2 separate regions of the Homo sapiens genome follow, and region 1 is linked to region 2. The links come from fine-mapping of genetic effects on gene expression. Tissue or cell type: cerebellum. Region 2 holds a variant in brackets; the other region holds the start of a gene. All regions are shown on one strand. Distances are between the middles of the regions.

Region 1 (8,103 bases), 110 kb before region 2:
TGTTTTAGACATAAATAAAACACAGGAAAGAAGAGTTCTTTCTCTAGAGTGACGGTGAGTTTGAAGAGGAAGATATAGAAATCCACTTTCAGAGCTGGGATTTGCTGTCATAAGTTCCAGCACAGGCCTTCACTCACCAGAAAAGCTGAGGACATGTCTCTCTTCAGCTGGGCAGCCTCTTCTGTGTCCAACAAGACAGGAATCAACAGCTCTGAGAGCTGGAAATCTGGCCTCCGGATCCAGGCCTGGGAATTTCCCTTTTCTGATGCCAGCTTCAGGCCCAGTGTCTAAGGGCGACCCCTGTTGGTGGGACTTAAGTATGCTCATTATTCGTGAGCTGCTTCTCCAAGGGTGGAGATGCCCAATTCAGTTTTAATTTTTTGTGGGTCTGCTGGAAACCTTGAGGCCCACAGCCCACTCACACACTACCCTAACTACATCCTGCTTCCCTTTTCTCCTTGTCCTCCACCCGTCTACTCCAGGTTTTCCTGGACAACTGGGTCTGGAGGCTTGGCGTATGGAGCCACAGGTGTGGCCAACCTTTTAAACTGTAATAAGGCAGGCTGCTGTAGGGTCAGGTGCTGTCTTTGCTGATCAGCAGGTGGAGTGTGGAGGCCCTTGTTTTAGGGAACAGATGTGGCATCCTGTCAGCAGACTGAGGATGCCAGACTTGGGCAGCTTGAGGCAACAGTGAGCAGGCAGGCCAATCTACTGCACAAGGATGTAGCTGAGGGGGCTGCATCCCACCTGAGGAAGGTGGGTTGGAGGCAAATGCAAAGAATGGAGGAAGGGCAGGCTTTCTGGGTGGCAGGTCACACCATTGATGGGCGTTTCCCTTCTCTCTGGAGACTCTCTGCTGGGAGATTTCGGCAAGAATCAGAAAACTAACACAGCCTTTCTTGACCAGCTCTTTCCTGTCTCTGCATTTATAAGAGCAAGACAATGGATTGCGAAAGTGTGGGCAGTAAATCCACCAGTGTCATGTTGCTATATTTATCCATAAAGAATTACGCGGCACGCCCCGTTCATCACTGAGTGCTGAATGGCAGTGCTGAATGGAGAACTGGCTGGAGAATCTGGTTTTAGACATTCGGAGCCTGTTTGTAATTCATCAGCACTGCTCTTTTCCCCTGGGCATTGGTCTGTGATAAAGAAAACTGGATACCAGAGGAATGTGCTGGGCATTTCAGTGCTTTGAGAAAACATAGCCAAGCACTTCTCAGGGCCCATCCCTAGACAGGACCCTGCCTTTACCACTTCATCTCCCAGATGGCTGTGGAGCCAGCCCCTCACCAGAGAGCTACCTGGCTCCACTCAGGCCTCAAATCTACTGTCTGTTGATGGAAAATCCTGCATGTCGTGCCAAGCCAGGCTGATTCAAGGTCGACCTTTCTCCATTTGGGCCAAATGCCCAGCACCCCCAAACCCCTAACACACAACTCTTTGTGGGTCTGGTTTCTGGGAGCTCCTTAAGGAAGAAAAACATAAACAGGAATCATGGTGAGGACTGGGGAGAGGGGCCCTGGGTCGGGGGGGCTCCATTTTATTCGGCTGGAAAGAAAAGGTTGGGGAGGAGGGCTTGCCATTGGATCCAGTTCATTACTTCCCAATAAATCAAAGAAGGGCTGAGAATCCTGACCACCACCCCCAGTAAGGATCAAGTTCCGCTTTCTGGAAGAGGCCTAGAGGTGGATTGCAGGACTTCCCAGTTTAACCAGGTGACAAAGGCTTCTGCTTCAGCCCAGATGTGATCACAGACTTCCACAGCTTCTGCCGACCACAGCCTGGCCTTAAAGTCCAGACCTAGAGTCCCGGAGCTAGTGTGTACTACACAGAATGGAGACCTTGCCTGAGGAGCTGGTTCTCAGAGAACACTGGCAGGAAGGAAGAAAGAAATGTATATTCTAGGAGGCCTCTGCTAACCAGGAAAGGGGGCTGAGTCACACTCTGAAAGGTGGAAGAGGCAGAGAGCAGGTATCAACGCCCTCATTTTACAGATTAAAACAAAACAAGAAAAACAAACACTCCTCACCTCCCTGCAAAAAAACCACCCTGAGGCTCAGACAGGGGAAGTAGCTGGCCCTGGTCACACAGTAGGTTAGCGGCAGAGTTGAGAGGAGACTCCATATGCCCTAGGGATGTGTTGTGATGAACTTTTCCTACTGGTACTGTTTCCTCCCGCGAGGGAATGTCTAGACCAGCCGCACCTTCTTGCTTTGACCCTTCAGAACTTTGGCCTGTCCAGTTAAAGAGGCACAGAGCCCTCCTACCCACAGGGAATGTTTCTAACTTACCAAGCACCTATTATGTGCTTAGAACTTGGACTTTCCTGATCTCATTTAAGCCTCACCATTCTAGTGAGGAAGCATCACAGAACCCATTTTCCTGATGAGGAAACTGAGACTGGGAGGGGTTAAGATCCTGTACACAGTTGTAACTGGCATGTCTGAATCCAGTTTCAAACCAAGGTGCCTTTCAGTGAACACCCAAGCATCTTCCTCTCGGATTAACTGCTAGGCCAATACCAAAATCTCTTTCTCGGGCTACTCTTTTGCTGCTGAGTTAAAAAGAGATCCTGAGACTTAGCCTGGGACCCCGACTCGCGGCGATTCTGTGGCAGGCGCAGACCTTTTCTCCTGTCCTCCACTGCCTCTTTGCCTCGGAGGGCGCCCCGGGGCGCGAGCGGGGCACGGGCGACCCTGGCTCCTTGGAGGCCCGGGGACTTGCTCTCCGCGGTCCGCCGCGGCCGCTCCACCGAGTCCTGGCCTCCAGCGCCCTCACCTGGCTGCTGCGGGCGGGACTCTGCGCACCCGGGCTCCGCGGGCTCAGGTCTGCGTCTCCCAGAGCCGCCGCCAGAGCCCGCCCCGGTCCGGCCCGGGCACAGGGCCCCCGCCCCACTTGGGCAAGGCGGGGGCGCGTGGAGGGAAGTTTCATCGGGGGGCGAGGGAGGGAGCTTCGGTGCCGCGCGGGCGTCAGGGGCTCCTCGGGGGAGGAGTCAGTAAAAGTGGCTATAAAAGCGGCCTCTCGGCTGAGGGCCGGGGAGCTAGCGCTCAAGCAGAGCCCAGCGCGGTGCTATCGGACAGAGCCTGGCGAGCGCAAGCGGCGCGGGGAGCCAGCGGGGCTGAGCGCGGCCAGGGTCTGAACCCAGATTTCCCAGACTAGCTACCACTCCGCTTGCCCACGCCCCGGGAGCTCGCGGCGCCTGGCGGTCAGCGACCAGACGTCCGGGGCCGCTGCGCTCCTGGCCCGCGAGGCGTGACACTGTCTCGGCTACAGACCCAGAGGTAAGAGGGCCTGGCTGGGGGCGTCAGGGATGAGCTGACGGCCCATGCCACGGAAGAGAGGTAAGAAGTGGGGGCCCGCGCCTCCACCCGGCACAGGGTAAACGTTACCCGCCTCAGTTTCTGTTTGTCTGTCCACCCTGTGCTGTGCAGTCTACCTCTATCTGTCTGTTTGTCCATGCGTCTGTTGATGGGCACACGCTCTTGGCACTGTCCTCTGTGGGATTTCTCTGAGATCTTGTGATGCTTTACAAGCTGCAGGTGCCGGGGGGCGCTGGAGTCCCCAGAGGGCATCCAGAGGGGGCAGACTCCTGCTTTCCGTAGATTTTCCCCCTTCTGAATGGCACCGGGGGCTTGCGCCCGGGAGAGTGTCTCGCCGAGGAGGGAGTACCACAAGGGTCAGGTCTCGGTGTCCTGCCGACTGGGAGCCAGCTCACGCCGAGCTCTAGCGGGCGTGCGCCTAGCAACAGGTCTGCGCCCTGCTGCTCCTGCCTCAGCACGCTCTTCCTCCCAGTTTCCCTCGCCTCCCAGTGCCTCCGGGACAGCGCTAGGCACCCAGCGACGCGCTGGCGCGGGGCCGAGCTGAGGCAATTGCAATGTTAGATGAACCCGGGGGGCTCTGCTGATGTTTAGACTGAGACTCCAAACGTGGCATCGCTGGAAGAAGGTCTGGTGGTCCCTGGCAAAGGACGTCGGCTCCAAGAAAGGTCGCGTTAGGTTGTGAGGAAAGGCAGAGAGTCCTGGCAGAACGCTGGCCAGGTCTCCAGCTCGCCGCTCTGGGAACGAAGGCCAGTGACATTCTGGAATGGACCCCAAGGGATGCGTGTGCTCATGAGAGAGGAGCGCTGTGCGCCCTGGGTCCTCAGCCGCAGACACTCTCTGCGACAGCCGCTGTTCCCCAAGGGTCGGACGCTACGGCAGTCCCAGGAGTTCCGCCAGCTGCCGGGTTTGAGGTCCTGAGTCCTTCTCCAAGCAGCCAACGCTACCCACAGGTGAGAGCTCCCTTTAAAAACTAATCTTCTGATGTGTGAGCCAGTGCCTGGCTGCAGCCCCATACCAGGGACGGTGAGCCGGGGAGCGCGTCTCTCCATCCCTGCGGTCTGGAAAGTGATCCAGGGCGCGCCCGAGGGCGGGGAGCCGGCGGCTCTGCGTGCCCAGGCGCGACGCCACCATGGACAGCTCCCAGCCACTTCCTCCACTCGGGGTCTGTGGCCCTGGGTCTCCGGGGAAGTCGTGCGCTTTCTTCCCAGACCCAAGGCGTTGGGGCGCTGGGAAAGAGGAAAGGGACTGAGAGTCCGCTGGGGCCCTCGGTATTACCACTCAGGAGGCAGCCCAGCCCTCAGGAGTCTGTGGTTTGTGACCAGGTCCTAGCTGAGCCGGCAGTTCTGCAGGACCTCCCGGGGGCACTCTGTGGTTCTCTGGCTTTTCTATGACACCACGGAGACCCCTCAGAGCTGTTAGGAAAGTATGGCCCCTGAGAATCCGACCCAGGCAGTGAGATAATGCCAGATACAATTACGCCAGACATAATTAGGGATCCAGCTCAAACTGTTTTCTGTGTAGGGCACAAGTTCATGTGTTCCATCAAATTAAATTATTTATTTAGTACATATGGGATTGGGAGGATATATTAGTTTTACGATTAATGATAGAATGGAGAAGAAATCAAATAGAGCAAATTTATAGAGAAGGCAATCGGATGCATTTGCAAAAGCAACTATGCGGTTTTCTGATCCTAATAGTTTTGTTCAAAGCCCATGACTTTCTTAAAGCAATTTCCAAAGGCTCCTTTTTAGCCCAGTAGATGACTTTTCAAGTTGGTCACTTGAAACAGGGTGGAAAAACCTGTAGGGTTTAATCTGTGCACCAAATTAAAGATCTCCCTTCTCTGGTAAGAAACGACACTGGATGGGGCTCTTTTTGTCATTTCCACCCATACTGAAGTGTGTATCTTCCTTTATTTTAAAATTACAAGAAACGCAGGTCTGCTTTTTTTGTGTGTGACTGACAAAGGCCGACGGAGAGTAAAAACAAGTAAACACCTCTTATAAAAAAAAATTTTGAGACAGCATCTGTGACTTTGGGAAAGTTGCTCAAATGTTTTGTGCCTGTTTGCTGATATGTAAACTGGGAATAACGCAATGCCATCTTGCAGGGTTGCTATGAGAATTACAGTAATTGGTACAATGTAAAGCATTTAATCCAGTGCTGAGCATAGAGAAATCGTTTTAAATGGTAGCAATTACAGGTATATTTTAAAGACAGTTGTGCATTTCTTTTGAATTATGTTCACCATCCCTTTGCCCTCTCTCTTAACCTAGTAACTGTTTGATAGGGACTCCATCTTCACTTTATTTTTGCATCCGAGAACTTGTTGATGGAATTGATGAAAATGCTGGAGTTGATCACAATGAAAAAAAAATTCTTATTTAAAGACAAATGGAAGAACTTTTATGTGATAAAAATCGGTCAACTGTTTTCCCCTACCTACACTACTTGGAGGAAAGATAAAAGTAAGTTGTTTTCAAAATACTCTCACAGCCCTCTGGTTCAGATGATCAATTTTTCCTGATTGTTCTCTCACAAGAATGCAAGGTCTTCTAAGTGGCTTTGTTGTCTTTCTGCAAGTGAAGTACTCTTGGGTATTGATGGAGAGTGGCCTCTAAGGCCTGGTTTCTAGATCACTCCAGGATGAAGTAGGGGTTAGCTTTATGGAGTGGAACTTTGCCCAGGGGTTCACTGAGTGGTCATTGCCAAGCAGGAAGCACCTTACTTCATGCTTGAGCCTTGCTTAGGTGTGAGATTCTGACCAAGATACTTGCTCTGCCCAGAGCAGTGAGCACTTATTTGATCCCAGCTGGACTGGAGGGTCCCTTCCAGCTCTGCATTTCAGGGTTCTGTCTGGTAGACATCACTAATACATGACACACCACAGAAGTTTGGAGAATGGAATTGTATAGTACCCAGTCTTCCAGTTAGAGTTTTCTCCCCCCACAAAAGTGTGTGTGTGTGCGTGCATGTGAGTGTTTTTATCCCTGTCAGTTTTACATTCTGGTGCTCTTAGATTTTTATTCTTCTCCTCCTTCTGCTCTTAATAGCTCAGAAGGAATCTTAGCTTCTTCCGTCTAAAAGGATTGGAGCTGAAGAATACATGCTACAGATGCTCAGAATCTTTCTATGAGACTGCTGGTGACATGAACAGAGCAGGAGGACATGGGGCCTTGGATGACCTTGAATTCCTGGCTGTCTTCTGTGGACTCCCATGCAGATTCCAGTTTCCAGCATACCCATGGCTTTCTGGTAAGAAAACTATTGAACTACAGGACACTCTTGGAGTGAAGGCCAATGAGGGGAGGAACTGTCATGTAAAGTGGTAGAAACGAGCTCTTCATCAGTCCTGTGGCATTCTGCCTATTGCAACAGTATCTGAGTCCTCAGGACAGACAGAGCAAATGGCAAGAGTGGCATTCAGTGGGGAAGGCCAGCAGAGTGAAAGGGGTGAATTCAATTATTCTCATCAGCCTCCTTTGAAGCCTGCTGCTTAAGTGACCTCTTTTTAGTACCTTCTGTGGTATCGGCAAAGCATCACAATTTGATGGATTAAATGCAATTTGCATTTGCAGTTATAGCTCAAAAGAGAAATGCAAACATGTAGGTTGGGTTCCTAAATGGGAACAAAGTTGTATTTGTGAGTTGCATCCACAAGATAGCATATCTTTGAAAAGTCTGGACTACACATCTCTTTCTACATGATGGCACATACCCAGGTGTTTGATCTTATCAGGGTAAAGCATCAGCTATCTCTCACTGCTTGTTTTTTACCATTATCTGGAGGCAGTTTCAGTTTCCTTTGAACAGTGAATAGGAAAGGATCACATTCTTACTCTCTTGTATCTGGTTGGGTTGGCAGGAGGCTGGAAGTGGCAGTGGGTACTGGGGGAGACTTCTCAGTGCTGGGTTCCTTTCTACTGTTTTGCAAGCTATTCAGCTGGGCCTGAACCTCCTTTCCCTAAAGTCTGGCATGTAGAAACTTTGCTAATTTGAGTAGGATGGTGACTGTCATGGTGACTTTTATTAATATCTGCACCTCTTTGCTTTAGCTACTTTCTTCAGGGGCCATCTTATCCTCTCTGGCAGGCCCCTAGTCCTTCTTTTTCTTCTCTGTGCCCTGGCACCAGGCTTTGTTCAAGCTTGGTTCTTCAGAACGGAGGCTGCTTGCAGAGAAATGTCATCAAATATACATTTGCTGTCTGCTTAGTTCCCTTGGTGTTAGGAAACACACATGGCCACCCAGAGGGAGAGGAGCTGCTACTCCTCTCTGCCCCTGTTATTTTTTAGGGCCTGTCCCTAGACTCAGCTTGGCTCCAGGAATCTGAATCCATCCTTGCCTCCCCACCCCTGCAGGTGAGTGAGCCCTGGGGAGCACAAGCAGTCAGGCCTTCCTTGCACAGGCACCTGCTCAGAGCAAGGAGCTGGACAGCCTGGCTCCTTGCACTGGGATATCTTTGAGTCTTCTGGAAGGGCAGTCATATCAGGGGTTTAGATGCAACTTCAGTTTAAAGTGCTTTGCCCAGACTTTGAAAACCTTTGAAGACCAGGTCTTTGAAAGCCCTGTGAATTTCTTTCTCTCCTGTCAGTAGGAGAGCTGCACCATTAGACATTTTCTGTTACGGAGAAAGCATATCTAGATAGTTGTTCTGGCATGGAAGGTGTCCATGCCAGATTGCTGTCTTACCTGTTTTTAGACATCACACGGAGGAGGGAGGGCCACAGGCTTCCCCAGGAGCCTGCTGCACTCTTTGGCCCTCTCTGAGGTGAGGAG
Region 2 (8,103 bases):
TCAGTGGAGGGTGCGAGGTTAGGTGGGGCTGGACCAGATTGTGCCAACAGTTGGAAACAAGTGTGAGGACCCAGGAGCAGCTATCCAGCTACCACCGGTACCAACATTGTTTTTCTTTTCCAAAAACCTCCTTAGATTACTTTCCCAGATTCATTTTAGAACTATTTTCCTTAAGTTCCAAGACATACTCTTTAGGAATTTCTACTGTAATTGCATAAAATCTTTATCCTTACATGGGGAAGAGTTGGAATCATTACAAAATTGTGTCTTTGCTTTGTAAATTATTCTCACCAGGGGTATAGATTTTGTGTGTGTGATTTGTATTTCATGGATATTTTACGTGTATGAGGGCAGGTTATCAGTCAATTTGGAGATTATTAGTTCTTGCTATTATAAGAGATCTGCTGTCTAACATTGCAAAATACTGGATAGTACACTTAAAATTTTAAGAGGGTAGATCTCAAGGTAAGTGTTCTTACCACAATAAAGTAAAATAATTTTTAAAAAATAAACAGGAGAAAATAGCAATGCAACAACATTTACAATACTCAAATGTTATATGACTGCTACTGTGTGAATCAGAGATTACATTTTAATGATTCTAAGATGCATTATCATAAGAATCATTAACAGGTCAATAAATAAACTTTAAGTTGGATCTCTGCAAGTAACTCTGTGCAAGCTGCTCTAGGGGTGGGAGAAGGGATTTGGGATAGTCTCCATGTCATTTCCAAGAATTCTGGGATTGGTGTTTTACTCGGATCAGAGATATAAATTCCTAATGCCCTAGCTATCTGAACTATCTCCTAAAGTCAGGCTCTTCCAAGAGGCATGATCCTCTGCCTCCAGGATGAAAGGGGAACATCAAAAGGCCTAGACCTCAAGTATGTGACCCACTCAACATCCTGGAGCTTGAAGTCTTCACTGCTGCAATCATTTCTTTGGCATTTTACTCAGCGAATGAACATTATGGTCAAGTCAAAACCCTTCTTCTTGGATATCACTGTATGGTATGCAAAATAATGAAACTTGTTTGCTCTTTAAAGAAAAGGCTTCCTTCTTTAAGAATCACAGCCCTGGGATCATCGGATAGCATGTTAGCTGTCGCAGCACAGGCATGTGCTTAGAGCTCTTTGTTTTGGCTGCGGTCAAGACTATTCAGATCTCTTCTCTCTGCCCTTTTTAGGTTTGACACCTATAGATCCAAGAAAGAGAGTGAACGTCTGGTCCAGTATTTGAACGCGGTGCCCGATGGCAGGATCCTTTCTGTTGCAGTGAATGATGAAGGTTCTCGAAATCTGGATGACATGGCCAGGAAGGCGATGACCAAATTGGGAAGCAAACACTTCCTGCACCTTGGATTTAGGTACTGCCCCTCACTTCGGCTTCCACTGGGCTCTGGAACATTGAAGCCACTCTATCCCACTGAGAATTTACCTTTCCCATCTCCTCTCCCCACAGCCGTACCATCCTAAATGACCTAGTGGATGCAGGCATTTGCATTTGACATCTGAGTTTGGCATATTTGGGAATTGTTCTTAAAGAATGCTTGTTTTTTCTTACAAGCATAGTTCACTCAAAACAAACAAAAGCTCGCTGTTTATATGAACTCATTCATTCAGTCGGCCACTTACAAAATATTAAGTGAGCATCTACTGTGTGTAAGAGCCATGCCTCCAATGCACAGCTAATATTCATTTTCTCTTTCTTTGGTAAAGAGGTCATGTCATGGCTTGGGGTTTTTCAGAGATTATGTGAAGTGTCTCTGCTGAGGCAAATGACCAAGGAGAAGCAACCCTTTGACATGATCTAATATGTGTTTTGTTTGCCTTGGAGTGCAGCATCATGCCTGACATTGGCATGCACACACATTGACACTAAGAGGAAGCTGTTTGCCCCACAGTAAACAATGCCTTTTTTAAAAATTTAATTTAATTTAAAGTTCCAGGATACATATGCAGGACGTGCTTGTTTGTTACCTAGGTAAACGTGTGCCGCGATGGTTTGCTGCACCTATCAACCTATCACCCCGGTATTAAGCCCAGCATCCACTAGCTATTTGTCCTGATCCTCTCCCTCCCTCTGCCCCTCGCCCCTGCCAAGCCCCAGTGTGTGTTGTTCCCCTCCCTGTGTCCATGGTAAGCACACCTTTTTATCATGTTGAATCAAATCTCAGCTCAGTGGAAAGTTGAGGTTATCTGTCCCATGGCTGTTTAGAGATTACGATGCTCCTCCCTTCAGCTTCCCACATCTGGGAGCAAGATCAGAGGGAAGCCAGAGACTTTTCTGGGCTTGGAGCAAAGCAATTTTGCTGGCTGGGCAGAAATTCCCTGGGCAAGGGAGGGGTGCTCCAGGTTCCAGAGTGCATTTTCCGACAGCCCAGAGACTACTTCTTCTGGACGGGAAACTCAAGCAGGAAACTTAAGCAGCCAAAGATGACAATGACACCTTGGCATTGCAAGCCTCCTTTGTTAGCAAACACTAAGTGCACTTCCATTCTGTTGTTTTATAAACCAAAAGGCCAGTTTATTAATTTACAGTGAGAGTTAGAAACACCAGGAAACTGACTATTTACGGCCTCAGCAGAAGAAGAAAGTGGCTAAGGGCCCAAGATCTGGCATCCAGTGGCCTGAGTTTGAGTCTGGGTTGCACCTTCCAGGAGGTGTGACTGCAGGCAAGTGACTCATTCTCTTTGCCTGGTCCTGCATCTGTAAAATGGGATATACGAGGAGCTATCTCAAAGGACTATAGGACAATTAAATGTGATAATATGAACAAAATATTTGTCATCATGTCTGGCACAGAATAAGCACTCCATAAATGTTAGCAACTATTTTCTCCTTATAAGCAAGAGCCACTGGAAAGGTGGGCACTCGCCGTCTTTTGCCAGGGCTGTTCACATGGGCAAAGGAGATACATAGGTGGGAATTACACGTCCACACCTCATTTGTATAGAGACATTCTTTGAGTGATAAACTTGAAGCATCTAAAATCAGTAGGAGAACTGAGACTTGGACCCTTCATTTGTTCACCCATTCAGGAAATGAACACATACTGGTGGGAGGTACTCGGTTAGACCAGGTGTCCTGAACTCTTGGGGGAAGGCAGGTATGAATGGAAATTGGTGACGGGGCATGAGAGAGCAAGAGAGTGGGCAAGTGTAGTTTAGTGCAGACGAACACATGAGGATGAGGCCAAGCTGGTTCCCATAGAGAGATCAGCAGCTTCGGAGGCCCAGGGGCAAAAGCATGCCTCTCCCAAAGAAGGTGGGGATGGCGAGGCAGTGGCAGTATATGAGAGAGGCAAGGGGTGAGAGGTGAGGCTGGAGGGGGGCGGGGGCAAAGGACCTTCGAATCTGTGCCAAGGAGCTTGGATTTTATCCAAAGGGCAATGGGGAGCTACTGAAGGATTTAAGCAGGAAAGTGGACAGTTAAATCCCCAACCTCAGTTAAACACCGTTCAATAGTGATTCATTTTCCAAGACAAGAGATCAAAACAAGAATAATGAGAGCTATTCAGCACCAAAATCGATTGATAGCTTATAGTAAGAGAGGGCTACTGTAGGGGGGGAAAATCTCTTTCCTTCTACTCTTCTAAGTTCTTGACTGGAGCACCTGCAACAAATCACTGATTAACAGGAGAAAAGCACACAAATGTATTTCAGATAGTAAGTTTTAAACGACATGGGAGCCTTCATAAGGAAACGAGGACCCAAATACACAGTTAAACCTGAGTGTCTGTACACGAGGTTTGATGAAGTGGAGAGCTGTGGGAAAATGTGGTAGGACAAGGGGCTTGAGTTAAACACAGTAAACAGGGGAAATTTAGCAAGGTCTCTGTTCCTTCAGATTCCTCTTGGCTTCCTTCTGTGTTTGGGGATAAGGATGCTCTTTTTCTCAGAATAAGGAAGGCCCTCTCACATAAGGGTCTTAGACCTGCTTCAGGGGAAAGTCAGAAACTCCTTCCTGCCATTTCACAAATTCCTTGAGCTTGAAATATTCAATATGCCAAGTTGCCATTTTGGGGGGTAGCGTCTCCTGAACTTCATTACTGCATTAGGCATTACGCAAAATGCCTAAAACAAAATGGGGTAAGAAAACCTTGCTGCCCTAAAGCAGCACGTGCTTTCATGGAGGAATGATGGATGTACAATTTTTCAAAACCTTAAGCCTTTTTTTGCTTCCCTCCCCATTAAGAAGAAGAGAGATTTCTCTCCTTTCCACGGCCCAAGGCAGATGGCTAGGGCAGTCAGTCATGTTAGCCTCTGGTATTTTCCTCGAGCTCAACTCTAGGGGAGCTGAGCATGAGAGAAATAACCTTTCTCTCTTGGAACATGTTTTCCTGAAGGTATCCAAGCATTTGCTTCAGGACATAATTGAGCCTGGCGGGTGGTAT[A/G]GTAGGTCTGTTGGCTTGTTTGTTTATTTGTGATTCATGCTCCCATCTTCTGCCAGAATGGAGCTGAAGAGGCTCACAGGGAGCAAACATCAGGCAGGCCAGGGAGCGAGAAAGCCCAGAGGAGTGCTTGCAAAGAAAGGTGCTTCTTCTGGAGAAGAGAAGCCCAGCAAGTGAATGAATTTCCCCCAAACAGCAGGGAGGGACCCTCCTTCACCTGACGCTGCTTCAACTCTGCCCCATCCCCCCACACTCTGTGCAGGTACAGACTCGTGCAGAACTTTACTTTTTGTTATGTTTTTCTTTTTTTCAGACACCCTTGGAGTTTTCTAACTGTGAAAGGAAATCCATCATCTTCAGTGGAAGACCATATTGAATATCATGGTAATACATAGCTGGCTGGAGGCCTGATTCCCTCCAGTGTCTCTCTGATCAAGAGGTGCAGGGCTTTTCTGAACATCTCACTTTTCTCAGAGCATGGCTTCCCAGCTCCCAATGTCTAGATGAGTGAGCAGCCGCTTAACTGGCCACCTTACATGGAAGTGGCAAAGGCCAATGCTGGCCAAAGGCCCATCACTTGCAGTAATATTTCCCTTTTCATGGAAATCTTCACTGACTTAATCAAAAACCTAGAATTGGCATAGAAAAGATAAGAACTGAGATAGAGCCAGCAGGGGTGGTATTTTAAGAGCTAAAACGAGGCTGGGTGTGGTGGCTCACGCTTGTAATCCCAGCATTTTGGGAGGCCGAGGCGGGTGGATCACTTGAGGTCAGGAGTTCGAAACCACCCTGGCCAATATGGTAAAACCGTGTCTCTACTAAAATTACAAAAAAAAAAAGAATTAGCCAGGCATGGTGGTGGGCACCTGTAGTCCCAGCTACTTGGGAGGAGATTGCACCACTGCACTCCAGCCTGAGCAACAGAGACCCCGTCTCAAAAAAATTTAAAAAAAAAGAGCTAAAGCGACACTTTAGATGGGCCTTCAGGACACAGTAGTAGCCTCCTTTGCCCAGCAAAGGCTGCGGGAAGCGCTGCAGTTCTAATGCCAAGGAGGAATTCAGACCGTGAGACATGCTAGAGCTCTGCAATCTGAATTTGTTGGGAGGCTGGAACTAAACTTTCAAAACTGAAACAAAAGAATGGATGATCATCTCTTCCCAAGTGAATGAATGTCCTAATTTTCTTTTATTTACTTAAAAAATATTTTTAAAGAAATGAGTCAATGCCCATGTGCGTAGGGGGGTTTCCTTGCCTTGGAGTCACAACTTTTTGAATTTGGGGGTCTGTCCAGCTCCTAAAGGGTCTCGTTTCTCTGACAGGACATCGAGGCTCTGCTGCTGCCCGGGTATTCAAATTGTTCCAGACAGAGCATGGCGAATATTTCAATGTTTCTTTGTCCAGTGAGTGGGTTCAAGGTGAGGAGTTTCAGACAATTTGGTGACACCTAACAGTGGGATAGAAGACCAGAAATCACTGTCTTTGCAGAACTAGGATTTATCTCTTATACCAGTAGGACCACTTTAATTTTTGCAGAATCAACTAAAAATGTGCAACCAAAAGTTGTCTTTAATTAGACAAGCCACTTTAGCCCATAGCCCAGAAGGATGTTCTCCTCTGGCTAAGATTTCAATTTCACCTCAGTCAGGGTCTGCGGCATTCAGCTTAGTTCACGGAATATCTTTGATGTGGCAGGCAATGGCACTGAACAGGAAATGCAGATAGGAATAGAACCTGCCCTCCAAATAGCCCACATGCAGGGATTGCAGAAAGCAGCAATCCTAGTTGCAGTCCTTGGATAACGGGTTTACAGATGGATTTTCTTTCTTTTCTCTTTAATTTGCTTTTGCAATAACAAAGAATATAAATTGCTTTTATAAAAGTAAGAAACTCATTAAGAGAAACTCATTTTTTAATTAAAACATGGGAGCATAGGCAGATTGATTAGAGCCATCCATGCCCCAGCCTGGTGCAACCATGGACAGATAATATTCAGTTCCCATGGTGCTGAGGATGCTTGGAGACAACACTGAGTGTGACTTGCCCTCACAGACAACCTCCTGTCTGACTGTGCTGTTTGCTTTCTGCCTAGACGTGGAGTGGACGGAGTGGTTCGATCATGATAAAGTATCTCAGACTAAAGGTGGGGAGAAAATTTCAGACCTCTGGAAAGCTCACCCAGGAAAAATATGCAATCGTCCCATTGATATACAGGTACCAAACTCACAGCAAAAATAGAAAATAGAAATGTGTTGTTTTGAAGAAGACTCTATAGATCACAGACATTCTTGTCACTTGGGTGCTGTGATTCTCGTTGCCCTCCTGTGAGGTAGGTCAGCCAAAGAGTACCATTCCCACTTTAGAGACTGAAGCAGAGGCTTACTATCTGCCCAAAAGCCAGGGCTCAGATTCTCTCCTGGGTCCAGCTTCTGAGTTCCTTCTCTTTAACTTGCTTCTTCAGCCATGACTGAGTGTGCCCCCACCACAGGGATGGGTTTGGACTCCCCAGCCTCACTTCCCCGTCAATTTCCTTAGGGACCTTGAGTGCACAGGATGCAGCTAGGATTTGGGGTGCAGGCCAGGCCAGCCCAGATGGAGAACACACGCATGGCCTTGTTCTCAATTGAGCTAAATCAAAGCCAGCATTCATAGAATGGACAGTGTTTGCTCAAAATCTTCACTTAGAGTTAATTCCATCTGAAGGGGACCTTGATGTTCTCAGTTGGCTCCATCAAGAAAGTGTTGAGTAAATATACAGGCCTCACCAGCTGAGCCAGTGGGATACTAGGCTTTGGGAACAACAGGAGAGACAGGAGAAATAGGCAAAGTAAATGAGATTTATCTCCTTATGCCCAGTCTCATTCCAAGACAAGATTTGAGGCTGCTTAAATGCTTGATAGAGAATTAGAAGTCATTTGAGCTGGGCTCAGTGGATCATGCCTGTAATCCCAGCACTTTGGGAGGCCAAGGTGGGCAGATCACTTGAGGTCAGGAGTTAGAGACCAGCCTGGCCAGTATGGTGAAACCCCCTCTCGACTAAAAATACAAAAAAAAAAAAAAAATTAGCTTGGTGTGGTGGCGGGTGCCTGTAGTCCCAGCTACTCAGGGTCTGAGGCAGGAGAATTGCGTAAACAGGAGGTGGAGGTTGTGGTGAGCTGAGATCGCACCACTGTACTCCAGCCTGGGTGACCGAGCAAGACTCTGACTCAAAAAAAAAAACAAAAAAAAACCAGGCATTTGAGAAAGGCCATCTCCACCCATTTTATCCTCCTTCAGCCAATAAAAATAGCTACCCCATTTGTACAACACTTTTTCCTAGAATATCAAAGCTCGGGTCCCAGGTCAGCTCGAGTCCCAGGCCATCTGTCTGTGCTTTCACCCCGCCACACCATCCTGGGCAGAACTTCTACCCTCTGTCTTGCCTTGTAAGAAGGACCACTTATCCAAGGGAGGAGCCTCTGTTCTGCACTTAGCAAAGTCTGAGGAAAACTTTCTCATTATTTGGCTGAGACTCTTCCCTTCACATGGCTTCAGTGTTATTGAGAAGGATTTACCCAGATTAAGTTTCAAGTTGCAGATTCTCCTTGGGTCCAACAGAATCAAAAAGCACTGATCCCCCACAGCACATTCTTTCCAGATTTAATTTTAATTTTCTCTCATAACCTTGAATGTTCCAGCTTTAATTCTGAAATAGCCATAATCTTATCCCTCCA

Which allele goes with the higher level. Positions count from the first base shown, and alleles are read on the strand shown. Sizes are in standard deviations (SD) of each study's normalised expression.
As copies of G replace A in region 2, the expression in cerebellum of the gene that starts at base 3,040 in region 1 goes up (moderate effect, 0.48 SD a copy in GTEx).

What was found. PIP is the estimated chance that this variant, and not a neighbour inherited with it, causes the effect.
Region 1: it holds the start of CEMIP, and the variant in region 2 is fine-mapped to the expression of CEMIP in cerebellum (GTEx, PIP 0.96).

Annotation. Positions count from the first base shown.
Region 1 is chr15:80,776,331-80,784,433 of GRCh38, forward strand. CEMIP (cell migration inducing hyaluronidase 1) reads left to right here and starts at 3,040. Exons shown (of 30, transcript NM_001293298.2): 1 at 3,040-3,284. RefSeq lists a silencer at 2,662-2,941 and an enhancer at 3,562-4,067.
Region 2 is chr15:80,882,989-80,891,091 of GRCh38, forward strand. CEMIP (cell migration inducing hyaluronidase 1) reads left to right here. Exons shown (of 30, transcript NM_001293298.2): 7 at 1,187-1,366; 8 at 4,706-4,776; 9 at 5,713-5,808; 10 at 6,483-6,604. Among named protein-coding and RNA genes, the nearest start is that of MIR549A, 45 kb to the left of the region's middle. The variant A/G (reference allele first, on the strand shown) is at 4,396.